2 linked regions of the Homo sapiens genome follow. The protein of the gene in region 2 purifies or fractionates together with the protein of the main gene of each other region. This does not show direct contact. Each region holds a gene or a part of one and is shown on either strand. Other genes may lie near its edges. The genes, in order: NGEF and SLC12A8.

The links.
Region 1: the proteins of SLC12A8 (region 2) and NGEF purify together in Homo sapiens (affinity purification with mass spectrometry; 2 studies listed by BioGRID and IntAct, with this or other methods). This does not show direct contact.

Annotation. Positions count from the first base shown.
Region 1 is NC_000002.12:232,887,345-232,903,590, forward strand, and holds part of NGEF (ephexin-1), read right to left. Parts: intron 14,204-16,246; exon of another isoform or gene 14,018-14,203; intron 7,573-14,017; coding exon 7,412-7,572; intron 5,707-7,411; coding exon 5,554-5,706; intron 4,144-5,553; coding exon 4,014-4,143; intron 764-4,013; coding exon 689-763; intron 1-688. UniProt on the Homo sapiens protein: Acts as a guanine nucleotide exchange factor (GEF) which differentially activates the GTPases RHOA, RAC1 and CDC42. Plays a role in axon guidance regulating ephrin-induced growth cone collapse and dendritic spine morphogenesis.
Region 2 is NC_000003.12:125,169,737-125,185,982, forward strand, and holds part of SLC12A8 (solute carrier family 12 member 8), read right to left. Parts: intron 8,239-16,246; coding exon 8,007-8,238; intron 1-8,006. UniProt on the Homo sapiens protein: Cation/chloride cotransporter that may play a role in the control of keratinocyte proliferation.

The sequences.
Region 1 (16,246 bases), on a different chromosome or scaffold from region 2:
CAAACCTCTAGGAGGAGCCGTCTCTCTCTGAGGGTCAGGAGATGGTCTGGAGAGATGGTCCTTGCACTCTTGGGCAGCAAAGGCCCAGGGCTCTTGGGCAGGGCCAGTGAATCCCCTCACAGAGATGCACAGGGGTGACTGAGCTCCGGGGACTGGGAGAGTGGCGTGGAGGGCTGGGTTCGGAGCAAAGGGCTTCATCAGGGCACAGGGAAAGTGGGAACCAGCCTCGGTGAGCCTCACAGGAGGGAGGAGAGACTGTTTCTGACATGGAAAAACAGGCAAAGACAAGCCTGGGGTCTGTGTGGGCCCCAGATGCCTGCAAAGAACAATCCCAGGGAGCTGATGAGAGGAATCAGGGCCTGTGCATGATCGCAGAGCTCCACACTGGTGAAGAATGTCCTGAGAGCCACGCTGCTGTCCCCACATCCATGCCAGGCACAGTAACAAGACAGGCGGTGAGTACGTAAGGCTGGAGCCAGGAAGCAGGGTAAAGAAGGCTCTCTACCCAAGCCATGCCTGGTGTATTTTTTTAAGCCCCAGTGACTCTTTTGATTGCAAAAGTGAATTTTAAAATAAATTTGCATATTCTAAAAAGACACACGGACATGTGGGGAGCAGGGCCGGAAAGGTGTGCCTGGATGAGGAAAACAGTGCATTGGGATACAGCACAAGAGGAGGTGAGACTCACCATTTCCAGCTCCTTGTGAGCATCCAAAGCAGTGCACTCCCGCTCAGACCTCTCTTCTACCCTCTTCAGGATGTTCTATGCACAGAGAAAGGCTGCGTTAACTTTAATCTTTTCTGGTCTTTCCTCCCATTTCCCACCTTGACCGTGACTACCTCCCTACTGCACCAGTCCAGCCCCATGCTGCAGCATGCACACACACACACACGCACGCACGCACACGCATACATGCATGCACACATGCATACAGACCTGCGTGTGCACACACGTGCATACATGCTCGCACACACATGCACACCATGCACATGATGCACACCTGCAAGCAGTGTGCACACATGCACACCGTGTAGAAACATGCATACAAGCACACGTGCACACATGCATGCACACACGTGCATACATGCTCACACATGCACAACACGATGCATGCACACTTGCAAGCACAGTGCACACACATGTACACACGTGTACAAACATGCATACAAGCATGTGTGCGCACACATACATGCATGCACATACATGCATACCTGCACACACACACGCATGCACGCACACACATACACACAGCCTCCATCTGACAAATGGAGAGCAAGAGAGCCCGCAGGTGTGGCACCCAGCAGTGAGGACTGTCACGCTTAGGGTCAGCTCTGTCCCCAAGGGGAGCTAAATGCTTACGGGACAGGGGTAGGGGGACCAAGGGCTTCCCTCTCCTCCCTGGGACTGTCATTTGGCCCCGAAACTTTGTTAACTTTGGTCTTCTCCATGAAAGTGTAAGAAAGAGTCTCTTCTCCAACTGTTCAATTTTCTTCAGTTAACAAAAAATTATGCCCATACTGCTTTCACCTGTAAATTACGATTTTGACATTGCTCTATAAACTCCACATGGTTTCCTCTTAGCGGTCCCCACCATGCCCACGTTTTCTGACTGGCTTTTGTCCTGTAAGTAGGCTGGGTGCATCTGGGCACCAACCACCTGTCCTCCCGGCTGCTGGGTGCCACGGCAGCACAGATGTCTCCCCTGACAGCAGCCCAGGCCTCTCCTGTGGTCACCTGCCCGCCTCTGCCTGGCAGCCAAGCCAGAGACCTTCGAGACCCACAGCCACCTTCCTGCTTTTTCCATCCTGTATGTGGCCACCATGCCTGTCATTAACTGTCCCCCTACTTCCAAATCCCTGCTGAACAGCACGGTTTAGACGCCATCTTTTCTCACAGGCATAAAAGCTGCATCTGACCAGGTGGCATTGGTGGCCTCAGATGGAGGGCAGTATGGGTTCCTTAGCCTGGCACGTGCTCTCCCACGCCAGCCTCCACTCGGTGTGTCCCCAGCATGCTGCCTGATGTGGAGACTTGCCGTTCTCTCTGGAATGGTCCCTGACCCGCCACCCCTTTCTCTGAGCCCTTCCCTGAGTGCCCACCCCAGCTGTCCCCATTCCACCATTTCCTAATCACTGCATTTCCATTGCTTTTAATCTTACTGTTGGTTTTCATCTTATAGAAGCTAAGGTTTTAATATATTCATATATGCACTTTCCCTATAAAATGTCCTAAAATATTTTTCACTGCATAATTAGGAAATGTTACTGTCTTCTGTTTCACTTTTTCCAAGTTAAAAAAATATTTCCCACGGAACTGCGTTCATCACAGGTGTCTTCCGGTTTGGGGTCGCCATCCCGGCTTTGCCCTCACGTTCGTATCTCCATTAGCCCTGGGCCAGGGGCTTCTCCTGACAACTGCTTCCTTGGCCTCATGCTCCCAAACCCTTTCCTCCTGGGTCAGGCCTCCTCTCTGTAATTCTGCTCTTTCTGGAGTAGCTGCCCCTAGGTCTTTGGCCTCTCACCTGTCTGACCTCTGACCTCTGCTACCTGTGGCTCCCAGGTCCCCCTCAGCTCATGCTCCTCAGGGCCACAGCTGCACTCTATACCGTCCACTTCACCAGCCCAGCTGCCAATGGCTCCCTCTGCCCAGGGCATCAGTAGACAGGGCCCCAGCATCTGTCAGGCAGAGGGGGTCTCTGTCCTGCCTCACTGGGCCTGTCAGGTGGAGGGGGTCTCGGTCCTGCCTCACTGGGTTGTCAGGCAAAGGGGGTCTCTGTCCTGTCTCACTGGGGTTGTCAGGCGGAGGGAGTCTCAGTCCTGATTCTGGGTCTGTCAGGTGGAGGGGGTCTCTGTCCTGCCTCACTGGGCCTGTCAGGTGGAGGGGGTCTCTGTCCTGCCTCACTGGGCCTGTCAGGTGGAGGGGGTCTTGGGCCTGCCTCTGGGCCTGGCTGGAGCCTCCCTTTTCTGGAAGCCCCATCCCCCTGAGTCTCCCATGCCTCCAGCTCTGTGGGTTTCCACCTCCCTCACCGCTGCTCCTTCCCAGGCCTGGCTGCGTCCCTGAGTTTGGTCTCAGGCACCTTTCTCTCCTTCCTTGGCGGCCTCTTCGGTTAATTACCACCTTGATGCCAGCGAGTCCTGCCCAACTTCTCCCTTTAACTCTGACCTCTGACACTGAACTGTCCAAAGTCATCTCAAACTCAGTTCATCCTGCCCTGAATCCTGAGCCCTCCCCGCCCCAAGACGTCCCCATCTCAGCAACGGCTGCACACCCCCAAACTGCTCAAGGTAAAAGCCGAGGAATCACTCTCAGTCCTTCTCTCAGCAAGTCACTGATTTCAATTCCCTGACATCCCTGCCGGGCCCCCACTCCCCGACCCAGCCCCACAGGCCAGTGTAACCCCTTCCCCGTTTCCGTCACCCTCTGGAGCAGCCAGGGCCAGCTCCTAAAAGTGGGTCCGATCAGGTGACTCCCATCACACTGAGGACAGGACCCAATGTCTTCCCTGGAACTGCCTCTGTCCCCATCTCCACACCCACTCCCGTCCCCGTCATGTTCCCGAGATCGCTGCTGGCCTTTCTGTCCATGAACCTTGCAGTCTTGGGGCCTTTGCACAAGCGGTTCCCTCTGCGTGGAATGTTCTTTCCTCTACCTGCCCCCACCAGCTCCTCCCTGTCAGCCAGGTCTCAGCTTACACGTCACGTGTCTTTCCTGACCCGCCCCCATCGCTGCAACTGGCAGTGGCCAGCCAGCCACCCCTGTCGTGTCGGCCCATTTGGCTGTCCCCAGGGCCATGCCCACTTCCTGGCTGTGCATGGTTCGGTCTCTCCCCTCTGCGATGGGCTCCCTGGGAGCAGGCGCTGCATCCTCACTGCCCAGGAACGTGCTTGGCACACATGGGAGGAGCTTAGTATCTGTTGAACCAGTAGACCTCCTAGAAAGCTGACAGGGCCCGGGAATGACCACAGCAAAGCCTGGGAAGCCCCGTCTGTGGGTCAGGTGGAGGAGGCTGTACCTGGACCAACAGCTTGAGGCGTGTGATCCTCTGGAAAGGCAGGATGAGGAAGGAGGAGAAGGGCAGCCCCCTGCACTTGGGGTCGAGCTCTAGCTGCGCGATCAGCTCCCGGAAAGCTGCCTTCTCCTGGCTGGGGACACAGACAGGTGGAGTAGGTCTCTGAGCTGCAGGAGGCATGAACTGGAGACTCCTCCTCCCCATCCACAGCCTCCCAGGATCCAGACGACCCACGGGCTCAGAAAACATGTTGATTTCTTTCTTTGTTTTTTTTCAAAAGGAAAATAGACTGTTCACGTAAAAGTCAAATAACAATAGTGGCTTCACATGCCTGGCCTTGAAGACTTGGCACAATATGCTGCTGTGTGTGGGAGGATAAGGATTCCTTGTGTGGCCAAGTCTGTGAATCAGATGCACAATTAGATGATTTCACCCAGCGGGAAACTGTGGCAAGGTAAACCCACGTAGTGACAGGAACGGGCAGCAGGCTAGAGACACCACCAGGACAGCCTGCACTATTTCTGACAGGTGGGCTCAGCGGTGGGCTGGGCCACAGCGCTGATGAGGGCTGGGAGAGCTGGAGGTGAGCTCGGCCCCATGCATGTCAGCAGGGATGGCAGGGACGGCAGGGACAGCAGGGACAGCAGGGACGGCAGGGACAGGTGCTCAGCCTGTCACTCAGCCTCTGTGCTCACACGGCCTGGCGGGGGCCACAGCGGCAGGCTCTTGGGTGCTGTGAATGATTCCTAATCTGCCACATGCTTGCCTTCTCAATGTTTATCCTCAAAAATTGCATCCTCATTCCCTCCAATTCCAATTTTCCTTCACCAACTGTTAAAACATCCAAATGCCCAAAGACTCAGGCTTGAAACGTGCACCATGAACTCCATGTCTTGGTGGAAAAGCCAGTGAGGCGCAATGTGCAGACGCCACAACTGGAAAACTCCCTGGGTGCTTCTGTGCGGAGCCAAGACGGCCTCCCTGGCTAACCCCAGGCACTGAAGTGCGAACCTCAGTGCGCAGAATTCAGAAGAGGCACGCTGGCTGGAAAATTACCTTGTCAACTAAACCTCAGAGAAAGTTTACAAAATGGGCAGATTAGCAATCAATGCCCCGGCGCTGCTGGAGGAGCCCCACCGAGGCTCCTTCCCATCCTGTCCCTGCCCTTGTCGCTAGTTCAAGCCCCGTCTCTGATGTCCTGGGCTTTGAATTGTCCACATGACCTCACTTGACCTCAAGCTCTCTTTTCTAACTGCACAGTGCTCTGCTCAGCCATTGGATCCAGGTCCAGTGGATGCTACGCTGATTCTCTTGGGGTCTGGCTGGGCTAATGTTTCTCTAGTGACACCAATACACCCTAGAACGTGCTGGGTTGGGACACTGTCACCAGTATCCCTGGCCAACTCCGGTGGCTCATGTGGACCTTGGGAACGCAGAGGTAAAGGACCATGAAGTGTCACCGTGTAAGGAGCCTGGGCCAGCACTGGTATGGCTGCCCCGGGCACCTCCCCCTGCCCCTGAGCCCCTTGCCGGATACACTCACAGCAGCTGCTTATAGGTCCGCTCCTGGTAGGTCTGATTGCTGACGTAGGTGATGTAGACAGAGAAGTGGTCGGCCGCATAACGGTACACAATGTCACACACGTCAGAGATGACGATGTTCTCCTCCATCCGGTGCTCCAGCTCCAGGAGGAACCTACGAGAGGCAGCGGCTTGAGGCGGAGGGTGCCCGGGGGGTAGGGTGGGGAATTGTCTCACCAAGGGCAGCATGCGAGCCTGACTTGGACATTGGACATAGCAGTGTGCACGGTGAGCGTACAGGCCGACAAGATCCATCGGCAGGGGCACCGAGCACTGGTGGTGTATTTGGTCATCTTGAAGAATGACTGTGTTTTCACGGGGCTGATGGTGCTGGGAGCACCAAGAGACCTTATCTTTCAGGTATGTGCTGATGTGTTTGAGGATAAAATAGATGACCATGGGGATCTGCTTCAGAAGGGTCCCCTGGGGGGTAGGGACTGGCCCCTGGGCTGACCACTGCTGACGCTGGTGAGCAGCGCACATGGACATCTACCTCTGCATGTTTGGAATTTTCCACAGTAAAATACAAATACATAAGACAGAAGTGCCGTGGCAGGGCCAGGCGCAGTGGCTCACGCCTGTAATCCCAGCACTTTGGGAGGCCGAGGCGGGCGGATCACCTGAGGTCAGGAGTTCGAGACCAGCCTGGCCAACATGGTGAAACCCTGTCTCTACTAAAAATACAAAAAATTAGCCGAGTGTGGTGGTGGACGCCTGTAATCCCAGCTACTCGGGAGGTTGAGGCAGGAGAATCGCTCGAACCCAGGAGGCGGAGGTTGCCATGAGTTGAGATCGCACCATTGCACTACAGCCTGGGCAAAAAGAGTGAAACTCTGTCTCAAAAAAAATAAAAAAGAAGTGCCGCAGCAGAAGCCCAGGGGTCTCACAGGCCACTCTGGCCCCAGTCAGCCATCACCTCCCAAACCCACCAGAAGGCGCTGCCACGAAGGGGTGAGGGGGCTGCAAACAGAAGTGAGAGTGTCAGTGTGGAGGAGAGACCCACTTGGAGGCCCACAGAGAGTGAGCAGCTCCCAGGGTGCCACATGTGATGCTGAGCGGATCCCCACTGCTCAGAGCGGGGCTGCGCCGGGCCCCACCTTGGTTTCCCATCTGATCACCAGGCACTGTCCCAGCTGAGCCCCATGTGGCTTCTGGCTGCAAAACTCCATGGCCTGCCCTGGGGATGGTAAGTGCTCTTTCATCCTGGCCACATGATTTGGTTCCTTTCCTTTTCAAAGGATTCAATGGGCAGATGTCTGTCTACTCTTCCTCCGCTGCAGCTCGGCCCAGGCTTCACACAGTCCCTGCTGGAAGCACAGCTCCCAGAGCTGTGGAAAACGCACTCAGGAGGTGAGGATGTGGGAATCCAGGGCTGCACCCTGCACAGGGCCTGAGGCCCTGCATGCGCCACTGGGGCTTTCTGCTAGGGTAAGGAGCAGCTTACATGGACACCTTCTGTCCCTGTCACAAGACTCCCGTGGACCTGCCTGGTTTAAACCTGTCCAACCACCGGTTTGATGCATGAGAGAGCTGGACTCAGCGTCACTCCAACCTGGGGCCAGCAGGATGCTCAGCGCAGAGCTTTGTGTGGGGCACAGGTGCTCATGGGAAGGGACGCCGGGGGACGTGACTGGCCACCCTGCCAGAAGGGGTGGTGAGGTTTGGATTTAGTTCTTCATTTATTTATATTTTATTATGGAACATTCCAAACATCTGGAAGTAGAGAAGCCAGTATCGAGCACTTGTCATCAGTGTCTCAAGCATGTGCCCTGGGGATGAAGAAGGGCCCTGAGGGAGGTGGCTGTCCCCCCCGTCCTCACCGCTCACTGACAGCCAGCACGTCCAGGACGTTGGAGAAGAGGATGTGCGCCTCGGACGGGTGCAGGATCTTCCTTATCCGCTCGTTCTCCATGAAGTGGGACACGAGCAGGTTCAGACTCTTGTAGTAGGACGCCTCGGAAGTGACCAGCTCGAACATGGCCTGTAGCAGGGAGACCCCATGGTTACCGCCTGAAGTTGGCCTTCCACGAAGGCGCTAGCCTTGGCTGAGACAGAGGAGCAGAGGGAGGCTCAGCAGGGAGTTGAAAGGGAAAAATCGCCTGCTCCTGGGGCCTGGGATGGCTGCTGCAGGGGCAGCTGGTAACACCTGCGGCCGGGAATGGTAGTGAGGCCACTCTTCCTAGGGAGCACACTACCCCTAAGGTGACAGGGCACGGAGGCTACTCCCTGTGAGAGAACACTTACCATACTGACAACTGGAGATAGCCTAAGATCCAAAATATGAAACAAGACAAAAACGAGAGAGGTCAGGCTGGGCGTGGTGACTCACTCTTGTAATCCCAGCACTTTAGGAGGCCGAGGCGGGCAGATCACTTGAGGTCAGGAGTTCAAGACCACCCTGGCCAACATGGTAAAACCCTGTCTCTACTAAAAATACAAAACTTAGCTGGGTGTGGTAGCACATGCCTGTAATCCTAGCTGCTTGGGAGGCTGAGGCATGAGAATCACTTGAACCTGGGAGGCAGAGGTTGCAGTGAGCCCAGATCACGCCACTGCACTCCAGCCTGGGTGACAGAGTGAGACTCTGTCTTAAAAAAAAAAAAAAAAGGTCAGCCACACACCTGAGCCCGCACAGCTGCCAAGGGTGGCTTGGCCCATGCTCTGGGTGTGCTAGTGGGTGCGAAAGTCAGCAGGTGGGAGGAATCCTGTTCCTCCACGCCCAGCAGAAAAGCGTCAGGGGAAACCGGCCAGTGTCAAGCACGAGTGTCACGGGTGGAATCTGGGGGGATGTTTACCTTTTTACCTTTTGAATCGCCTGATAATTTAACAATGAACATATATCATGGTCTGATTTTATAATGGAACCAATAAGGTGATTTTCATTTTGGAAGAGAGAAAGAAATCCATAACCTGATCAATTTTCTGGAGGTGCCTTTATTCGATGTCATGATTATCACCTGATTGCTGAGCCTCTGAATAGCTGACTAGGATCTAACAGCAGTTCTGCATCTCATGGGTCATTCTGTAAGGGCAGGTGGCAGATCCCGGCTCACCTTCCTCCCTTGTTTACAAATCAACCCAATGACCCACCTTCCTCTTCCCCGTCACCCTCTGATACTTAGGGCGGGTTCAGGTCCCACAGTCGCTTCCCAGGAGGGACAGCAGAGTGGGTTGAACTGTGGCCCCCACAGAAGCTACATCCATGTCCTAACCCCAGCACCTGTGAATGGGACCTTATTTGGGAAAAGGGTCTGTGCAGACATAATTGAGTCAAGGAGCTCAAGATGAGATCATCCTGGGTTAAGGTTGGCCCCAAACCAATAATGGGTGTCTTTATAAAAGAGGCCAAGGGAGATTTAATAATGTGACACAGACACACAGAGAAGGCACAGACAGAGATGGGACTGATACAGCCACCAGCAGTTGGAGTTGGCCAGAAGGATCCTCTGCAGAGCTGTCAGAGGGAGCACAGCCTGCCCAGGCTGTGGGAGAATCAATCCTGTGATCCTCTGCCACCCAGTTTCTGGTAATTTGTTATGGCCACAGAGGAGGGGTGGAAACAGAGCAGTGAGGAGCCTGGGGTAAGGGTGAGGGTGGGGGTGAGGGTAGGGGTGAGGGTGGGGTAGGGGTGAGGGTGAAGGTAGGGGTGAGGGTGAGGGTAGGGGTGTGAGGGTAAGGTTGGGGTTGAGGGTAGGAGTGGGGGTGAGGGTAGGGGTTGGGGTGGGGGTAGGGGTGGGGGTGGGGGTAGGGATGGGGGTGGGGGTAGGGGTGGGGGTAGGGGTGAGTGCAAAAGTAGGGGTGAGGGTGAAGGTAGGGGTGAGGGTGAGGTTAGGGGCGTGGGTGAAGGTAGGGGTGAGGGTGAAGGTAGGGGTGAGGGTAGGGGTAAGGGTGAGGGTAGGGTTGAGGGTGGGGGTGAGGGTGACGGTGGGTATAGGGGTGAGGGTGTGGGTAGGTGTGAGGGTGGGGGTAAGGGTAAAGGTAGGGATGAGGTGAGGGTAGGGGTGAGGGTGAGGGTACAGGTGAGGATGGGGGTAGTGGTGGGGTTAAGGGTGAGGTAGGGGTGCGGGTGAGGGTAGGGGCGAGTGTGGGGGTAGGAGTGGGGGTGAGGTTAGGGGTAAGGGTGGGAGTAGGGGTGGGGTGAGGGGTGAGGGTTGGGATGGGGTGGGGGAAGGGGTGAGGGTAGGGATGGGGTAGGGGGTGGAGGTGGGGGTCTGGCCCCTTCCCCAGGGTCCTGCCCATCCCCTGCCTCACTCCTTTTAGGGCCGCCCTCCGGTTTCTCCACTCATCAGAGCCCTGACCCAGGGCCCAGGGCTTTGGCATGAAAGCAGGAGCTCCAGGGTTAGAGGCATTTGTTCCCAGAACACAGTGGGCCCTGGAGTGGTGGGGTTTTGCAGGCTGTTTCACTTAATCCTCCCAGGTCCCCCAGAAAGGACAGACAGAAGCTCCCATTTTACCAAAAGGAAACAGACACAGAGAAGTGAAGTTGCATCCAGAAAGTCACATGGCTGGATGCTGGAGGAGTGGAGATGCTGCCACCTCCCAGGTAGCGCAGGGGTTTGCTGGGCATTTGATGCCCGCCTGCAGGAGCTCTCACTGCTGCTTCCCTGCAAAGCTCTGCCCACCCACCCACCTGGCAGAGCACTCTAAAATAAGGGACGAATCTGGAAGCTGGGAACACCCCACAGAGAGTTCACATTGATGTCACTCCAGGGCCAGCGGCCAACTGCAGACCCCGAACCACCATCAGTAGCCAGGGCCCACCCGGCCCCCAGTGTCTGCACCTCACTTGAGACAGTGACAGTCAGAGATGAGACGCTGAAATGAGCCTGTGGCCTCTCCGTGGCCATCCCCACGTCGCATCTGCCTCATCTACCTAAAAAGCAGCCACAGCAAGCACACAGCAGCACCTCACTTGAGACAGCGACGGTCAGAGACGAGACGCTGAAATGAGCCTGTGGCCTCTCCGTGGCCATCCCCACGTCGCATCTGCCTCATCTACCTAAAAAGCAGCCACAGCAAGCACACAGCAGCGGGCCTCACAGCAGCAGACCTGCAGCCCAGCGCTGACTGGCAGCAGACCCCGAGTCGGCCAGTGTCCACCGACACAAAAGTGAGGCTATGACGGGCAGCCAGTTTCCCAGAAGCTTCTCAGCTACAGATGCTGTTATGAATTCATTTTCCTGCTGCTAAATTTAAGTTTCCTAAGAAAATGTGAAGCAGTTACAGCTCACAAGTTCCAAGCAAACATAACTCACAAAACTGATACGAATGATACCAAGGGGAAAACCCCCATGCCCACAGCGCCACATCACAGAAAAGCATGCCATTAAACCACATGGCCCTGAAGGATGCCTGCTAGAGACACCTGGGATGACACCCTGGCTCTGGATCACCCGGATCTTCTGGCCGACAGCATCTCTGTCCTGATCTTCAGGGCCAGGGGAAATGGCAGGTAGGGCCTTTCAGCTGTGGGCCTTGGCCTGAATCCCTGCTAATCGGTATGGCTGAGGCTCATTCCCCAGAACTCTCACCCCTCCTCATCCATTTACAGGCAACGTCACCTGTGAATTTTAGCTTCCAGGATGTTTGTCTTCATTTTGTATGTCAAATTGTTTGTCATGTCGATATGGCTATCTTTTCCTTATCGATATTACTTTTGCTCTCATTTAAGCCTCTACATGGCAGCATAGAGCTGACGAGGGATCCAGGCTCTGCTCGCTCTTCATTCATTCACTCGTTCGTTCCTTCGTTCCACAAATGCTCACTGAGCATCTGCTGAGCACCAGGCACTGGTCTAGGCACTGGGCACTCGGCTGTGAACACAGCAAGACTGGCTTCCCATGGCACTTTCGTCCCAGGGTAGTGGAAGGAAGTGTGAGCCTGTGAGGGCGAGTGGGAATGAGTGTATGTGTGCATAGACATACGCGAGTCAGGGTGTGAGCATTAAGGAATGAGAGTGCATGTGTGGGAAATTGTGGGTGAATGTGTATATGGGTGTGGCTGTGAGAGCATGTAAGTGAATGTGTGTGTGAATGCATGTGTGTGTGTGAATGTGAGTGTGAATGGGTGTATGTGTGTTAACATGTGTGAGTGAATATGAGGGTGGGTGTGGATGTGTGGATGTGTGTGTAAATGCATTGTGTGTGAATGTGTAAATGAGTATGTATGAAGGTGGGTGTGAATGTGTGCATGTGTGTGAAAGAGTATGAGAGTGTGTGACAGTGGGTGAATGTGTATGAAGGTGAGTGTGAATGTGTGTGAATGAGAGTATGTGACTGTGTGTGTGAATGTGTGCATATGAGGGGGGCGTGTGAACGTACGTGTCACTACAGAAGCTCCTCCTCAGGGAATGCGCATGTAGCCTGGACCCGGCTGTCTGAATCTCTGCTTGGTCTGGGAATGGCGCTCTCAGCTCTGTTGCTATCTGCCAGTATTCACGTCACACTTCCTGGCTTTCCTAAGCCCATTCCTGGCCTGGATTCCTTGTGAAGATTCAACTCCGGTCCAGCCTGGGCTTTCTTCAGGCTCCTCTTTTGTGATCTCTTGCTGATGGGTCAGGGGTCTCCTTTGGTTTTCACACACATGCTCTCACAGTCACTCATATACATGTTCACTCACATTCACTTACACACATGCTCTCACAGTCACTCATATACACGTTCACTCACATTCACTCACACACACATGCTCTCACAGTCACTCATATACACGTTCACTCACATTCACTCACACATGCTCTCACAGTCACTCATACACACATTCACTCACACACGCTCTCAGTCACTCATATACACGTTCACTCACATTCACTTACACACGTGCTCTCACAGTCACTCATATACACGTTCACTCACATTCACTCACACACACGCTCTCAGTCACTCATATACACGTTCACTCACATTCACTCACACACACACGCTCTCACAGTCACTCATATACACGTTCACTCACATTCACACACATGCTCTCACAGTCACTCATATACACGTTCACTCACATTCACTTACACACATGCTCTCACAGTCACTCATATACACATTCACTCATTCACTCACACACGCTCTCACAGTCACTCATATACACGTTCACTCACATTCACTCACACACACACGCTCTCACAGTCACTCATATACACGTTCACTCACATTCACTTAGACACATGCTCTCAGTCACTCATATACACGTTCACTCACATTCTCACACACACACGCTCACAGTCACTCATATACACGTTCACTCACATTCACACACACGCTCTCACAGTCACTCATATACACGTTCACTCACATTCACACACACACGCTCTCAGTCACTCATATACACGTTCACTCACATTCACACACACACGCTCTCAGTCACTCATATACACGTTCACTCACATTCACTCACACACGCTCTCACAGTCACTCATACACGTTCACTCACATTCACTTACACACACACGCTCTCACAGTCACTCATATACACGTTCACTCACATTCACTTACATGCTCTCACAGTCACTCATATACACGTTCACTCACATTCACTCACACACACGCTCTCACAGTCACTCATATACACGTTCACTCACATTCACTTAGACACATGCTCTCACAGTCACTCATATACACGTTCACTCACATTCACTCACACACACGCTCTCACAGTCACTCATATACACGTTCACTCACATACACACACGCTCTCACAGTCACTCATATACACGTTCACTCACATTCACTCACACACACACGCTCTCAGTCACTCATATACACGTTCACTCACATTCACACACACGCTCTCAGTCACTCATATACACGTTCACTCACATTCACTCACACACACACGCTCTCACACTCATGCACACATTCACTCACACACACACATGCTCTCACACAATCACCCACAGAGGCACTGGGAGCCACGCTGCCCGTGGGGCCAGGACCAGGACCTGAAGCCAGGTGAGCAGGCCCCCTCTCAGGCAGCGCGGGCCACGGGGCTGCTCTGGGGTGGTGACGTCCGGCGGCCTCAGATCAGCCAGGTCCCGGAGTTAGGGCCGCCTACACCACCCTGTTCAAGTCACACATTTGAAAAACAAAAGAGACCCATCAGCAAGAGGTCACAAAAGAGGAACCAGGACACCAAGAAAAGTCTGCAGGAAGCCAACCTGCTCCTGATGGAGAAAGGCGGAAGCTTTACCAGCTCTAACACCCAAAGAGCGACGGGCTTTTACGCAGCCCGCGGGCCCCAATTCCCTGTTACTTAAGGCAGTTCAGCTTGTCCTGCAGTTCACGGTCAAACATGGGCCATGCTGCCTGGCCGGCCGGGACTACAGTGTCTGTCCTCGGAGTCCCACTCCTGCCTCCGCACTCGGATCAACCCTGCGTTCCCCACCCTCAGCAAAGCTCGAGGCTGCGCGATTTCTCCTCCCCGCTCTTTACCTACACGGTCTCCTTATGATCCAGGGTTCGCCGTGGACCTCTGGGCCGTGCATTCCAGCCTGATTTGGGTTGTTTTTTTGGCTTCTCCCGACCCCTGTGTTAACAAATCACTGCTGTCTCTGATGCTGTGACCTTCGATGCGTTGTTGCAGCTGCGTCACCAGGGTGACATCTGCGGGGGTCGGAGCCAAAGGCCAGCAGACCGTGGACTGAAGGGCGGGCTCACTGGCTGCCCTCCACCTTCCTCACGGCCAGGAAACAAAACGTAGCCCCTTCCCCACAAGGGTTCTGCGAGGTCCCTTCCCATCCACCCGTGTGCCAGGCCCTCCCCACACAGGTCACCCCCAGTCCTGGGCATCAGGGCACTGGCCTGGAGCCCAACTTAGTTCACTGGCTTTTGCCTGGAGGGAGGGAGGGGATGAAGAGAAGGCCAGGCAGAATGCCAAGGGTCTAAGGCGTCCTTCCGGGACTCCCTTAGAGGCTGTGGGGACGTCGCCGTGACACCTCAGCACAGGCCCTACCATCCAGGCTCCGTGTCTCCAGTATGCTGCTGGGAGCTATCAGGGCCACCTGGGCCGCTGAAGACCCGGCCTCAGTCTGTCCTCGGCAGGGCAGTGGCTGGGGTGTGTGTGGTACGGGGATCACCATGGCCCACTCCTCTCTCTCCTCTAGCAGCTGGGGCCAGAGCCAGAGCCAGGGGCGCAGGGCGCTCCCAAGCTCTCCACTCTCTGCTCCTGCCCCACAGAGTCCTCTTGCTGCAGCCGCCCTGGGGTGATTCACATCCTCTGTTCCCCAGGATGACTCAACAGCAAGGTCACAAAGTTGCCTCGGTGCCTGCTGCTGGTGCAGTCATTTACACTGCAGGCATCAGGATGCACGGAAGTGACTTTAAAAGGCTTCCAGTTAAGAAGAAACCCCTCAAAGGCTATCCTCCTTCTGCAGACAATGATGATGAAGTCGGACTCCAGAGCCAGAGCCCGAGCCCAGCCCGCTGCAGCGCAGTCTTTAGTGAATTCGAGGCCGGACTGAGCAGGTCCCGTGAGCAGCGTGGGGAGTGGGGGCTTGGCTGTCTGATGGGGGAGTGACAGCTAACCCCTTGGGTTGCTAAGGGACGAGGGGAGTCACATATTCAACGCAGCCATGGGATGCAGGCGCTGGGGGCCCAAACCCAAGCCTCGGCACTCACACACATCACAAATGCCAATTACTACGTTTTCTCAAGATGACCTGTTAATAAAATCATTCGCAAAAATGTTTACATGCTAAAATAAGTGTGTGTAAATTTAAAAAGACACATGCTTGAGAACATGTTCAGCCTGCCTCATGGCAAGAGAAATGTTATGTTAAAACCACAACGAGGCCGGGTGCGGTGGCTCACACCTGTAATCCCAATACTTTGGGAGGCCCAGGCGGGTGGATCACCTGAGGCCAGGAGTTCGATGGCCAACATGGTGAAACCCCGTCTCTACTAAAAATACAAAAGATTAGCCAGGCATGGTGGCCGGTGTCTGTAATCCCAGCTACTTGGGAGGCTCAGGTGGAAGAATCACTTGAACCTGGGAGGTGGAGGTTGCAGTGAGCTGAGATCGCGCCACTGCACTCCAGCATAAGTGACAGAGTGAGACTGTCTTAAAACAAAACAAAAACAAAACAAAACAAAAAATGTTTAATCTAGCACACTGGGTAAAGAGAAAATAGCTGGGTAAGGCACCACATTAGTGGCAGGGGACCAGCACACTCATATGTGGCTAGTGTGTGAAGGCAATTAGGCGATACCCTCTCAAAATTTAAAGAACATTTAACCTTTCACCCAACAATCCCACTTAGCAATTCCCTTAGCATTCCACTGTGTAGATGTTCAATCTTCCATGAGTATAAATAATGCTGCAATGAACACTCTCAGTACCCGGTATTTCCAACTGCAAATATCCATCAACAGGGACAGGTTAAATACATTATGGAACATCTAAACAGTGGAGCCCAGAAAACTGCAAAAATGAGGGTGCTCTATTTGGATGGAGATGGAAAGATATGGTCAGTATTTTAATACTAGTTTACATTTGTGTGACATGAGGGCACACACACACACACACACACACACCTGAATATGTGTCTGACGAGGGAACTGGGTGGCCCAGGACAGGAGTGGGAGAAAGACTTTCACTGAGAGTCCTTTTGCACCTTTTGAACTTCCTGTCAGGTGCATACATTTTTTAACCAAAAGATAAAT
Region 2 (16,246 bases):
GGGGGACTTCCAATGAAACAACGCAGTTTGCCACCAATCACCCTACTGTGATGCCCACCTGTCACAACTGCCACCCACTTGGGTTGTGGATGGAACTCCCGATCAGCTCTGTGGTGCCTCATTACCAACAATGGATGGACAGCGACTACCAGACATTTGGAGAAAGCTGGCAGCATCTGACAGGGAGAGCAGAACAAGATTGTAGAAAAAGAAATCTGGAAAAGAAAATAGGGAAAATAGAAAGCAAAAACAGGGAAAGATTATAGACAATTCAAAGAAAAAAATACAAGTGGGAATAAAATACAAAAAAAAATCCTCATTAATGATTCAAGAAAAGCAAATTAAAAGAAAAAGATTACATTTTTTTGCCCATCACATGACAGAAACTTGAAAAATTGAGCCTCTTCAATATTTTCCAAGGTATGGGGAATCAGTAACTCTTAGCTACTGTTAGTGATCGTTCAGAATGCAACAACTTTATTGGAAGGCAATCTGGTAGAACCTAACAAAATTTTTAAAGTGTTTGACCTTTGTCCTGTGAATTCTATTTATAAGCAATGATCCTGCAGAAATTAGCTCAAACTTTTGTGCAGGATGTACACATCAGCAATATTTATGATAGCAACAAACTGGAAAAATCTAAATACTCATCAGTAAGCTAATCTTTAAATATAAAGTATTTTAAATCTCTAATATGGAATGCTATGTGGGTGTTTTAAAAGAATGAGGACATCCTAAATGTACTGACATTGAAGGATATCCATGATATGTTAAAGAGTGGGGAGTAGCAAAACAATGTGGAATTTAATTACACTTTTACAAAGAGCTGTGCTGTGTGTGTTTATGTACATGCACATGTGCATGTGAGCTTGTGCATGTATACAAAATAGACTGGGGGCCGGGCGTGGTGGCTCACGCCTGTAATCCCAGCACTTTGGGAGGCTGAGGCGGGCAGATCACGAGGTCAGGAGATGGAGACCATCCTGGCTAACACGGTGAAATCCCGTCTCTACTAAAAATACAAAAAAATTAGCCGAGCATGGTGGCGGGCGCCTGTAGTCCCAGCTACTCAGGAGGCTGAGGCAGGAGAATGGCGTGAACCTGGGAGGCAGAGCTTGCAGTGAGCCGAGATCACGCCACTGCACTCCAGCCTGGGTGACAGAGCGAGACTCCGTCTCAAACAAAAAAAGAAAGAAAGAAAGAAAATAGACTGAGAAGCTATGTGCCGATCTCCCTCTGGGGAGTAGGAGTGGGAAAATGGAGTGAAGGGAAGAAACTTTCACTTGTCACTTGATAAATTTCAGGATATTTTATATTTTTATGAAACAAAGACATTGATTTTGTCTTTAAAATAAAAATAAAGAGAAAAATATAGTTTGACTTAAGTGTATTTATAACTGTTTTCTGATTTTAAAATTAACTATTGTGGTTTTTAAATGTGACTTCAAATTCTTTGACACTTCTCCATTGAAAGATATCATCTCACACCAGTTAGAATGGCAATCATTAAAAAGTCAGGCAACAACAGGTGCTGGAGAGGATGTGGAGAAATAGGAACACTTTTACACTGTTGGTGGGACTGTAAACTAGTTCAACCATTGTGGAAGTCAGTGTGGCGATTCCTCAGGGATCTAGAACTAGAAATACCATTTGACCCAGCCATCCCATTACTGGGTATATACCCAAAGGACTATAAATCATGCTGCTATAAAGACACATGCACACATATGTTTATTGCGGCACTATTCACAATAGCAAAGACTTGGAACCAACCCAAATGTCCAACAATGATAGACTGGATTAAGAAAATGTGGCACATATACGCCATGGAATACTATGCAGCCATAAAAAATGATGAGTTCATGTCCTTTGTAGGGACATGGATGAAATTGGAAACCATCATTCTCAGTAAACTATCGCAAGAACAAAAAACCAAACACCGCATATTCTCACTCATAGGTGGGAATTGAACAATGAGATCACATGGACACAGGAAGGGGAATATCACACTCTGGGGACTGTGGTGGGGTCGGGGGAGGGGGGAGGGATAGCATTGGGAGATATACCTAATGCTAGATGACACGTTAGTGGGTGCAGCGCACCAACATGGCACATGTATACATATGTAACTAACCTGCACAATGTGCACATGTACCCTAAAACTTAGAGTATAATAAAAAAAAAAAAATTAAAAAAAAAAAAAGAAAATTAAAAAGTAAAAAAAAAAAAAAAAAGAAAAGAAAAGGTGAAAATTAGGCCGGGCATGGTGGCTCAAGCCTGTAATCCCAGCACTTTGGGAGACAGAGGCAGGCGGATCACCTGAGTTCAGGAGTTCAAGTCCAGCCTGGCCAACATGGTGATACCCTGTCTCTACTAAAAATATAAAAATTAGCCAGACATGATGGCAAGTGCCTGTAATCTCAGCTACTCAGGAGGCTGAGGCAGGAGAATCACTTGAACCCGGGAGGTGGCAGTTGCAGTGAGCTGAGATCCCGCCACTGCACTCCGGCCTGGGTGACAAGCACAAAACTCCTTCTTAAAAAAAAAAAAAATTCATCTTCTCTGTTCTCTCTCTCTCTCCCTCTCCCTCTTTCTCTCTCTCTCCCTGTCTGTCTCTCTCTGATTGTTTGCTCTGGGAGAAGTCAGTTACCCCTTGTCTTAAGGATACTAAAACAGCTCTCAGGAAAGAACCACATGGACCACTGAGGCCTCCTAACAAGAAGAAATACCAACTTGCCAGTGAGATCCTCCAGCCCCAATTAAGCCTTCAGATGACCACAGACCCTGAGGACATCTGACTGAACCTCACCAGAGACTCTGATCCAGGGCCGCCAGCCAAGTCACACCCAAATTACTGGCTTACAGAAAAGGCCAGAGATAACAAATGTTTATTGTTATCTTATGCCACTAAATGTTGGGGTAATTTGTTTGACAATAATAGATAACTAATACGTGGACCAATCTCCCTCTGGAAAGAAGTGGAGAAACTGAGTGAAGGAGGAGACTTTCATTCTTTACTTTACTTTTTACATTTTTACATTATACATTTCAGGATTGTTTGGAATTGTTTCGTTGTTTATATTTAAAGAAATGGGAAGAAATAAAGTTAGGCTTAAGTGTACTTTAAAAAAACTTTTTTTCTGATTTTAAGAGTAACACTGGTCAGGCGCAGTGGCTCACACCTGTAATCACAGCACTTTGGGAGGCCAAGGCAGATGGATCACCTGAAGTCAGGAGTTCGAGACCAGCCTTGCCAACATAGTGAAACACTGTCTCTACCAAAAATACAAAAATTAGCCAGGTGTGGTGGTGCATGCCTGTAATCCCAGCTACTCGGGAGGCTGAGGCAGGAGAATTGCTTGAACCCAAGAGATGGAGGTTGTAGTGAGCCAAGATTGCACCACTGTACTCCAGCCTGGGCAACAAGGGTGAAACTCCATCTCAAAAAAACAAACAAACAAAGAAACCACTGGTGAAAAGGGACAAAGTTGGAGGATAGATGCTAACCAACTTTAAGACTTACTATAAAGCTGTAGTAATCAAGACGGTATGGTATTGGAGACAGAATAGACAAACAGAGCAATGGAACAGAAAAGAGAACCCAGAAACACACAAATACAGTCAACTGATATTTGACAAAGGCACAAAAGCAACTCAATGGAGACAGGAGAGTCTTTTCAACAACTGGTGCTGGAACAACTTGATATTCATGAGCCAAAAAAAAAAAAAAAAAAAAAAACCAAAATAACCTGGACACTCATCTTACACCCTTCACAAAATATTAACTCAATCTGGATCATAGACCTAAATGTCAAACAAAACTTCTAGAATGAGAAAATCTAGGAGTTTGGCAAAGAGATTTTAGGTACAGCACCCAAGGACCCAAGGCATGATCCACGGAAAAACACTGATAAGATAGACTCCATTACAGTTTAAAACTTCTGCTCTGCAAAAGACACTGTTAAAAGAATGAAAGAACCAACCACAGACTGGGGAGAAAAAATTTGCAAAACACACATCTGATAAAGGGTTTGAATCCAAAATATACAAAGCACTCTTAAAACTCAACAGTGGCCGGGCGCAGTGGCTCACGCCTATAATCCCAGCACTTTGGGAGGCTGAGGCGGGTGGATCTCTTGAGGCCAGGAGTTCAAGAACAGCCTGGCCAACATGGTGAAACCCCATCTCTGATAAAAATACAAAAAATTAGTCGGGCGTGGTGGTGCATGCCTGTAATCCCAGCAACTTGGGAGGCTGAGGCATAAGAATTGCTTAAACCCGGGAGGCAGAGGTTGCAGTGAGCCAAGATCGTGCCACTGCACTCCAGCCTGGGTGACAGAACAAGACCCTGTCTCAAAACAGAACAAAACAACTCAATGATAGGAAAACAAACAAACAAACAAAAAAACACAAGTTTTTTAAAAGGGCAAAAGATCTTGACAAACACTTCACCAAAGGTGATATACAGATGGCAAATAAGCATACAAAAACACGTTCAATATCATACGTCATTAGAGAATCGCAAATTAAAACAATGATGAGATATTACTATGCATCTACTAGAATTACTAAAAAACAAAAACAAAAAAACTGACAATACCAAATGCTGATGAGGATGTGGAGCAACAGGAACTCTCATTCATTGTTGGTGGGAATGCAAAATGGTACAGCCACTTTAGAAGACAGTTTGGCAGTTTCTTACAAACATAGTCTTACCACATGCTCCAACAATGATGCATCTAGGTATTTATCCAAATGAATGAAAAATGTATCCTCACAAAAACCTGAACATGGATGTTTATATCAGTTTTATTAATAATTGCCAAAAACTGGAGGCAACCAAGATGTCCTTCAGTAGGTGAATGGACAAACAGTGCTACATCCAGTTTCTTTTTATTCAGTGATAAAAAGAAATGAGTTATCAAGCCAGAAAAAGACATGGAGGAATCTTAAGTGCATATTACTAGTGAAAGAAGCCAAGCTGAAAATGCTACATACTGTATGGTTCCAACTATACAGCATTCTGGAAAAGGCAAAACTATGGAAACAGTAAAAAGATCAGTGGTTGCCAGGAGTTGGGGAGCATTAAAAGGCAAAGCACAGGGAATTTTTAGGGCAGTGAAACTCATCTGTATGATGCTGTAATGCTGCATACGTAACATTGTACATTGTCAAAATCCATAGAATGTATAATACTGAGTGAACCCTAAACTATTAGCAATAACATATCAATATTGGTTCATCACTTCCAGTAAATGTACCACATTAACACAGGATATTAATAATAGGGGAAACTGTGGTGGGGGAGAGAGAAAAGGGGTATGTGGGAACTTTTGTACTATCTGCTTAATTTTCCATAAACCTAAAACTGCTCTAAAAGTGAATTAATTTTTTTTAAAAAAGTAACACTGGTCATTTGAAGGAAAAGTAGAAATAAGATAATTTAGCCACATATAATCTCAACAGAAAGATAGTTGCTATTATGCATAGTTCCTTCCAGTCTTTTTTTCAAATGTCTATGTATATGTCCTCATTTTTTAAGAGTTGAAATCACTCTGTTAAATTCATTTTGAAGGTTTATAGTTTGGTTTCAGTTTGGATTTTTAACCACAAAGAAAATATCCCATATGAAACATCAGTGATACCAAAAACAGATTCTTGAGGAGCCAGTTGCTATGGGAATGATTGAAAATAAATTTCATCTCACACTACACTCTACTAATGTATTGACCAGAAGGAAGGAAAAATATTTGGAGTAACTTAGAAGAGCAGCCAAGAACTTCTAATCAAGAAGAAGGAAAATACATCAGGCTAGTGTGAGGTTTCAAAGAAGCCAGTAGCACGGCCTTGCAATTTCACTAATTGAGCTCTTCCAGCAACCGTGTCACTGGAGGGGGAAGTACAAGGAATCAGGGACCTGAGTGGACTCTGTCTTTCCTTCACTGACAGTTTGATGAGCCAAAGGCCAGCAAGTCTCCCTCCATATGCGGGCCATCTCTGCAGGGTGGTACATGGCCAGGAAAAAAAAAAAAAAATCACTGTTTCCTTCCTGGAGATGCGTCAAATATTTAGCAAGCTGCAAAGCCTGGGCTCCAGGTGATCAGTATGGACATCACATTGGCCCTGAGCATTAGAGTGGGCCCTGGGGTTAACCCTTTAGGTGCCGGATCGTTGGGGCATCTGAAGGTTCCTGGAGAGGGACTAGGATGCCAGAGGGTAGGGGATACTCAGGGAGTTCAGGGGAGTGACAGTTTTCCAACAGAAGATTTTAACATGCTCAGAAGTAGTAAGGCCAGATCAGTGGATGCCAACCGAATGCTGACCTTCCCACAACCAACATTTTTCTAAAAGGCAGGACTGTGTAGGTGCACATCCGGGCTGGCCTCCAAGGGGAAAAGCAGAGTTGCTGTCACAAAAAGACAGCATATCATCGTGCAAAAACAGGCCCCACTTCTCACCTCAGGCAACAGCTTTAGCATCAAACAGATCTCGCTAAATAATTTTTTTTGTATTTAGTAGAGACAGGGTTTCACCATGTTGGTCAGGCTGGTCTCAAACTCCTGACTTCAGGTGATCCACCTGTCTCGGCCTCCCAAAGGGCTGGGAATACAGGCATGAGCCACTGTGCCTGGCCTGGTTTTTTTAATAGCAAGAAAATAAAAGGACACATAGGCATGGGCAAGGACTTCATGTCTAAAACACCAAAAGCAATGGCAACAAAAGCCAAAATTGACAAATGGGATACAATTAAACTAAAGGCTTCTGCACAGCAAAAGAAACCACCATCAGAGTGAACAGGCAACCTACACAATGGGAGAAAATTTTTGCAACCTACTCATCTGACAAAGGGCTAATATCCAGAATCTACAATGAACTCAAACAAATGTACAAGAAAAAAACAAACAACCCTATCAAAAAGGGGGCAAAGGATATGAACAGACACTTCTCAAAAGAAGACATTTATGCAGCCAAAAGACACATGAAAAAATGCTCATCATCACTGGCCATCAGAGAAATGCAAATCAAAACCACAATGAGATACCATCTCACACCAGTTAGAATGGCAATCATTAAAAAGTCAGGAAACAACAGGTGCTAGAGAGGATGTGCAGAAATAGGAACACTTTTACACTGTTGGTGGGACTGTAAACTAGTTCAACCATTGTGGAAGTCGGTGTGGCGATTCCTCACGGATCTAGAACTAGAAATACCATTTGACCCAGCCATCCCATTACTGGGTATATACCCAAAGGATTATAAATCATGCTGCTATAAAGACACATGCACACGTATGTTTATTGCGGCACTGTTCACAATAGCAAAGACTTGGAACCAACCCAAATGTCCAACAATGATAGACTGGATTAAGAAAATGTGGCACATATACACCATGAAATACTATGCAGCCATAAAAAAGGATGAGTTCATGTCCTTTGTAGGGACATGGATGAAGCTGGAAACCATCATTCTCAGCAAACTATCGCAAGGACAAAAAACCAAACACCGCATGTTCTCACTCATAGGTGGGAATTGAACAATGAGAACAAATGGACACAGGAAGGGGAACATCACACACCAGGGACTGTTGTGGGGTGGGGGGAGGGGGGAGGATTGCATTAGGAGATATACCTAATGTAAATGACGAGTTAATGGGAGCAGCACACCAACATGGCACATGTACACATATGTAACAAACCTGCATGTTGTGCACATGTTATCCTAAAACTTAAAGTATAATAATAATAAATAAATAAATATACATTAAAAAAAGAAAATAAAAGGACACATAGAAAATGTGCTAGGCGATGTCTGTGTGAAGAGGAGCTTCTAGCCTCATGAAGCTGCTCCAAGACACACCTGCTCACCTGATCCAGGAACAGCTCACACCAATTGTAGGTAAAGCCTATGGGGGTTAGGGGGAGATGGGGTGGGCAAACTCACACCTACAAACATCTCTAAAGCAGTGAAGATCCATAAGGCCACATACTGGACTCTGAAAGGCTTACCTGGGTCCAGGTGGGTGAAAGAACCCACCACAAAGTCCAGTGTGGACACGGCCAGCAGGAACAGCAACAGCAGCTGGAGGCGGATTATCCATTTGACACCTGCGAGGTTAATGCCCAGCAAGGCCAGAAGCACCGCAACTGAAATTCCTCGCACAGCCCAGATATTCCCGAGGCCCAGCAAATCCGAGATGGATTCAGCAAAGCCGGTGATATACATGGCACCTGCAACACACTGACATGCGATTCCAGGTAGAAGAGTCAGCAGGACAGAAAGCCATGGGCCCATGGGCAGAACCGCCCAGCGCTGAGAACCCTGCACCCCCATCGGACACACTCACTGGCACCAAGGCACAGTGCCTGGGACCAGTGCAGGGTTAAACCAGCCCTTCCCACCCGTGAACCTGCCTCAGGCCCCATTTCTACTTGTCTACATCTCAACTAAAGAATGAAGGAGGAACCCAAGCTGAGAGCTGGCTGTCAGTGATAACAAAGATGAAAAGACTATGGGAGGAAGAAGATGGGACACTGGGCTAAAGAGGCCTCCGGATTTCTCAGTCCGAGTTATTCAAGAACTAAATATAGAACAAGAACACACAGGGGGTCCCATCTACAGAGCCTTAAAAGGACACTGCAGTAAACCAGATTTTTCTTCATTTCTCTATAGGTCAGTATTATTTTTAAAATTATCTAAAACTTAGCAAAAAAAAAAGTGAGTGGCACGTCTTTTTCAACGTCATATGTGGCAAAGGCTACCCAAGGACTATCTAGGTGAATGTACTTCATTTTACTCACTATTTGCTGTTGATTAAATGCATTATATGCCCCAGATTTAATAAAGTTACATGTTACCTTATGGATTTTTTTCCAGTACAGATGCAAATAACTTCTGTCCAGTGGAACATATAACCCAAAAGATTAGGATTTGTTGTCCTGTAAGACATTAACTGATTTTCTATCTAACCCAGCAATCTTATCCTAACATTTATTTATTCAACTGCCTAGTTATGAATTTACTAATCTGACCTCTGTCCACCCAGCATCCTTTGCAGATGCTCTTTAACATCTTACTGGCTCCTCCATTAATTCATAAATTAAATAAAATCCCTGCTCCAGGTTAGGCTTCCTATGAGTATTTGTTATATAATCTTTTTTTAAAAAAATGAAATGAAATCCTTGGCACATGTTTTTCTTATATTTGCCTGAGAATCATGATTTTATCTTTTGGGAAATATTTGAAAGATCATTTCAAATTAAATTGTTGAAAATAACATCAGTCTCACTTTTCCTAATTCCTCAGCCTCAGCCTTCTTCTCTCCTCAGGTTTGTCCTTCACTGCCCCCAGGGCCAGCTGGTCACTCTAATCACTGTAGCCCTGCCCTTGCCATTCTCTGGGAACAAATTCTATTAGGGCCTCATTCGTTCAAGTCCCTCCTTTTCCATGAGGCCTCTCCTCAACCTCTTTTTCTGAATAAATAGTAAGCTAACTGCTAAGGCCATACAATTAATTATCTGGTTCCATATTCTATTATCATGTCATGAACGTAAGTTTGTCTCCCCACCCCACCACCAAGAATGCAAATATCTTAAAAAATTGTTTATGCTGATTGTACCTCTTCAAATACTTGCATTTGCTAAGTATGTTGCAAGCATTCAATAAATACTTTGTGATATGCTGATCATATAAAAGGTGCTCTGGGAAGCAGGCTCCATGAGTTCCAGCCATTTTGTGTAAAGGCAAAAGGGTAATACAACTTCTGGATTTGAAAGGAGCTTGTGAACAAGGCCCCATTCTTCAATGAGATCAGCTCACTTTGCAACTAGGCACATATCATGTTTGTCAGCATCCCCCAAATTTACACTTAGCTTAACAGTTATTCCAGCATCCCATAGTGGTAAACATTTCTGTCCATATTAGGATGAGGTGGAAAGCCCAAGAAATGTGAGGGAAATACAATCATTTCTGAGAGAGAGAGAGAGAGAGAGAGAGAGAAAGAGAAAGACAGAGAGACTAATGTTTTCCTGCATTCATCTCAGAACTCAAACTTCCTCTTTACTAAACACCAAGAGTGTGATGTGTGATAGTGACGTTATTTCATCAGTATTTGGCCAGGTCAACAGGACTCTTCATGGTCAAAATTATCTGAGCAAAATAAAAGTAAATAAAATAAATGACAAAAATGTAGCAATGGATACCATTTATATGGGCACCACTTTCCCAGGTACCTGATGTCTCTGACATGCAGAGGATGATGCCATGGGACCATCTGCATCCAAAGCTTCCAAACTGTTTTTTTTTTCCTAGCAGTAGAACAATTTGCTCACGCAATGTGAGCCAAGCTGTAAATGCTGCCTTTTGTTCCCAGTAACTCCAGTGGATCTCATCCTTCTGGTTTGTATCTAAAATTGCTTTTTAGCCCAAAGATGCCAGCAACAGGGGATGGGGCAGGGTAGGGGGTGGGGGAAGCTCCTCAGGAGGCTTGTAAGGGCATGGTGGTTAGGAGCATGAATTGCGAAGCCAAAATATCTAAGGCCAAATCCTGGCTGACTTGGGAAAGTGTTTTAACCCCTCCGTGAAATACAGATAATGATAGTAACCTTCAAAAGGTTACTGTGAGAACTAAATGAGATGATTTATGTAAAGACCTAGAACAATATCTGGCTCATAGAGTTGTAGAAACAATAGCTACCACCTGTAATCCCAGCACTTTGGGAGGCCAAGGAGAGCAGATCACTTAAGGCCAGAAGTCTGAGACTAGCCTGGGCAACATGGTGAAACTCCATCTCTACTAAAAATAAAAATAAGCCAGGCACGGTGGTGTGCACCTGTAGTCCCAGCTGCTTGAGAGGCTGAGGCAGGAAAATCCCTTGAACCCGGGAGACAGAGGTTGCAGTGAGCTGAGATCACGCCACCGCACTCCAGCCTGGGCAGAAAATAATAATAATAATAATAGCTACCGTCATTATTATGACTTTGTTATTATTCGCTGCTGAAGAAGAGGAAACAGTAGCTAGCTATGAATATCATAAGATACTTTGTTGATGCTAAATAGATGATGGTACCATCACTGGAAATTTGCAATATAAGTTGTAAATAAGGATGCTTGAAACCAAAGAGACTTACTTTAAGGAAAGCAATTAACAGTCCAAAATTAAACCGTCTTCTCACAATGAGTCTGGGGGTAGAAGTGGGGGTGTTTATGGAGAGTAGGAAAGTAAATGTATCATAGAAGTTTAATATTTTGTTGGTAGAGGAGCTAGTAAATAATGTGTCTTGGTTGAGAAGTGTAGAAAATTATGATAGAAAAGGATAAGTTTAATTATGACTTCTGAGGGTAGACTGTCACTACTAGAAGAACTAAAAGCATAGTAGAACTTCCAAATCAACCAAAATGCAATAGAAAAATAACTGACACATGTTGCCAAAGTCAAAAGAAATGAAAAATAAAATTTTATATTTTTTACAAAGTAATGAAAACGAGAATGTTTTATTCAAAAACTCAAGAGGCATAACTAAACTTGGGTTCAGAAGAGAAAAATGTATAGTCTTAAATGATTTTATTAGTTAAAAAGAAAAATAGGCCAGGCGCGGTGGCTCACGCCTGTAATCCCAGCACTTTGGGAGGCCGAGGCGGGTGGATCATGAGGTCAGGAGATCGAGACCATCCTGGCTAACAAGGTGAAACCCCGTCTCTACTAAAAATACAAAAAATTAGCCGGGCGCGGTGGCGGGCGCCTGTAGTCCCAGCTACTCGGGAGGCTGAGGCAGGAGAATGGCGTGAACCCGGGAAGCGGAGCTTGCAGTGAGCCGAGATTGCGCCACTGCAGTCCGCAGTCCGGCCTGGGCGACAGAGCGAGACTCCGTCTCAAAAAAAAAAAAAAAAAAAAGAAAAATAAAGGAACGAAGAATTAACTTCAGTCACAAAAATATCAACATAAATAAAAAGATAATAGAGAGAAGTATTTTATATAAAGAAATATGAAATTAATGAAATAGAAGAAAAAATAACAAAAGAAAAATACAAGAAACAAAAGCTGATCTTTTAAAAAAAAATTAAATAGATAAGCCTCTGGTAGCCTGATTACAAAGAAAAGAGAAAATGCAAAAATATAGACTATTAGGAAAAAAACTACATATACAGAGGAGAGTAAAGAATGAATAGAGGGCCAGGCCCAGTGGCTCATGCCTGTAATCTCTGCACTTTGGGAGACCAAGGTGAGAGGATCACTTGAGTCCAGGAGTTCAAGACCAGCCTGGGCAACATGGCAAAACCTTGTCTCTACAAAAAAATACAAGGCTGGGTGCCGGGTGCAGTGGTTTACGCCTATAATCCCAGCACTTTGGGACACCAAAGTGGGAGGATTGCTTAAGCCCAGAAGTTCAAGACCAGCCTGGGTAACATGTCAAAACTTTGTCTCTACAAAAATAATTTAAAAATTAGCTGAGCATAGTGGTGCACGCCTGTAGTCTCACCTACTTGGGAGGCTGAGGTGGGAGGATCACTGGAGCCCAGGAGTGCCAGGCTGCAGTGAGCTGTGATGGCGTCACTGCACTCCACCCTAGGCAACAGACTGAGACCCTGTCTCAAAAAAAATTAAAAAAAGAATGAATGGAGAATAGAAATGAGCCATAAATTATGGTATATTTATACTATACGATATTAAGTAACCATTTAAAAAGCATTGGTTTAAAACATTGACCAAGAGATATATCTATTACTTAAAGTGAGAACTACAAGCCATGGAATAATGTATGAAATTTGTCCCCATTTTTTTTTTTTTTTTGAGACAGAGTCTTGCTCTGTCGCCTAGGCTATAGTGCAGCGGCGTGATCTCAGTTCACTGCAACCTCTGCCTCCTGGGTTCAAGTGATTCTCCTGCCTCAGACTCCCGAGTAGCCGGGACTACAGGTGTGCATCACCACGCCTGGTTAATTTTTTGTATTTTTAGTAGGGACAGGGTTTCACCATATCGGTCAGGCTGGTCTCGAACTCCTGACCTCATGATCCACCCGCCTTGGCCTCCCAAAGTTCTGGGATTACAGGCGTGAGCCACCGCGCCTGGCCTTGGCCTTGTCCCCATTTTTGTAAAAACAAGCAAGCACTTCAAAAATCCATAAATACATGTGTATAAGCCGAGGGAAATGTTCCAAAAGAGAACACTGGGATCACCTCAAGGGTGTGGGGGAAAGCTCTTTATTTTCATTGTCTCCAATGTGTTAACTGACTACAATGAATATCATTATGTAACTGTCAAAGAATTTTATTAAAAAATACAAGCAAACATATTAAAAGTACCCTTATGTTTACGCAAAAACTAAATCAGGGTATATCATCACCCTGTCTGCCCAGGTTTAGGGAAGCAGCCCAGGACTCAAGGCCTTCGTCCACACACTCAGCAACTGCCCAGCCTTCCCTAGAGCAATCCAGCCACCCCAGAGGCGGTACCCCTTCCAACCTGAATGCTGCTTTTCCTTGGAAAACATTCCTGGTGGTTTGTTTAATGTGTAAATGTCTTAAGGGTTTGTTATACGTTAAACGTATTCTATTTCCTCCTAAATCTTAGACCAGGCATTCCTTTTCTTTTTCATTCTCCACAGAGAAAAGCCTAATTCCTTCTCACAAGACACAGTGGGTGTTGCTCACCATTTTAAAGAGAGAAGGTGGCCTATTTTCAGGGTGTAATGCTTCCATTCCAAGGTAATTCTTTTAGCAAAATTGCACCTTGACAATCACAGGCATTTTCCTTCCACCTTACCTGGAGGACCAGCGCTGCCCCTCAACACCCCTCCCCTTCTGACACAAACTTCCAGGTTTAAGGTTAAAGAGTTGGTGGATTAACACATATGTCCTGAATATGCGTTAACACCCATAACAAAAACTCCAGGCCTATATCAGGTCCATAAAAACTTTCCAGTCATTCATTGTTTTTATACAGAGTCCAGCACAAAGCATGTGAGCCACTAATGAACGTTCTTCCACGTGTCAGCACAGGCTGAAGCTAGACATTTTGGTGTTCAGGGTAAACAGTCACCAAGAACCCTCAGGCCCACACAGGTAAGTGGAGCAGGGAGTGAGGGGAGTCTGTAGTCCATCGTCTCCTCCCCTGACAAAGAGTTTGGTCCCACAGAGCAGGCCCTGCCACCAAGGCCTGAGAGGGATGAAGGGGGAAGGGTTTTGTAGGATGCAGGGCAATGACGAGCCTTTGCAAGCTTTTGTTTTACTTTTTATTATTATTATTATTATTATTTTGAAATGGAGTATCGCTCTGTCACCCAGGCTGGAGTGCAGTGGCGCATTCTCAGCTAACTGCAACCTCTGCCTCCCAGGTTCAAGCAATTCTCCTGCCTCAGCCTCCCAAGCAGCTGGGATTACAGACGTGCGCCACCACGCCTGGCTAATTTTTGTATTTAGTAGAGACAGGGTTTCACTATGTTGGTCAAGCTGGTCTCGAACTCCTGACCTCAGGTGATCCACCTGCCTTGACCTCCCAAAGTGCTGGGATTACAGGCGTGAGCAACCACGCCCGACCTGCAAGCTTTTAAAATCATTACTTTAAGTGTTAATATCTCCTCAGTTTTGATGCTCTAGGGAAGGGATTGACAAACTGGCTCACTGGCCAAATCCTTTTTGCTGATTATTTTGGTAAATAAAGTTTTATTGGGACACAACTATACCCGTTTTTTGTAAGCCATTTATCTGTGGCTGCATTCACACTACAGTGGCAGGGTTGAGTAGTTGTGACAGAGCCATATGACCCTCAAAACCCAAAATATTTATGATCTGGCCCTTTATAGAAGTTTGCTGACCCCTGCTTGGGGGTAAAATCAGGGAATCTGTTTTGACAATCATTAGAAATAAATGAATGCACACATGCCCTGGAATGAGGGCTGAGGGAGTTAATAAGAACAAGGAATAGGGAGCCTCAAAACCCCAACCGCACCCTAGAGGAAGGAGGAGCTCAAATCAATAACCCAACCTGTCACCTTAAGAAACTAGGGAAAGATGAGCAAAGTGAACCCAAGCAAGCAGAAGAAGGAATCAATAAAGGTCAGAGCAGAAATGAATTAGGGATCAGAAAAACAATAGAGAAAATCACCAAAACCAATAATTAGTTCTTTGTAAACACACCTTTATCTAAGCTGATCAAGAAAAAAGAAAGAGAAGACATTATTTAAATTAGGAATGAAAGGGGAGACATTACCACCAAACTTACACAAATAAAAAGGACTATAAGAAAATCTATAGACAATTAATATGCCGATGCATTAGATAACCTACGTGAAGTGGACAAATTCATGGCCGAGCACAGTGGCTTACGCCTGTAATCCCAGCACTTTGGGAGGCCGAGGCGGGCGGATCACCTCAGGTCGGGAGTTCAAAACTAGCCTGACCAACATGGAGAAACCCCATCTCTACTAAAAATACAAAGTTAGCCGGGTGTGGTGGCGCATGCCTGTAACCCCAGCTACTCGGGAGGCTGAGGCAGGAGAATTGCTTGAACCCAGGAGGTGGAGATTGTGGTGAGCCGAGATCACGCCATTGCACACCAGCCTGGGAAACAAGAGCAAAACGGCGTCTCAAAAACAAAAAACAAAAAACAAAACAAAATTCCCAGATTAAAAAAAAAAAAAGAAATGGACAAATTCCTAGGAAGATATAAACTATCAAAACTAAATCAAGAAGAAGTAGAAAATCAGAATATGCCTATATAAGTAAAGAGATTCCATTAGTAACCAAAAAACTTTCTATCAAAAAAAACCCAGGACCAGATGGCTTCATGGCAAAATTCTACCATATGTTTAAAGAATTAACACCAACCCTTCACAAACTCCTCCAAAAAATAGAGAAGGAGGGAACACCTTCCAACTCAGTCTACGAGGCCAGAATTAGCCTGACACCAAAACCAGACAAAGAATCACAAGGAAACTACAGACCAATATCCCTCATGAATATATACACAAAAATCCTCCACAAAATGTTAACAAACCAAATTCAGCAATTTATAAAAAGGATTACACACTAACCACACCCTGATCAGGGACTCCTGGCCCGCGCCAGCGACAAACAAAGCACAGGCACTCCAGAGACAGTGACCAGGGGGACTCTAATGTTTGGGACCAGGGCCCAAGTGGAAAGGCAGGAAAATAGCTGGGATGCTGGTGCAGTGGCGTCTCAGGCCGTGGCTGCCAGCACTTAGAAAACATCTTATCTGTGAACATCTTTTTTCCAAATCAGCCCATG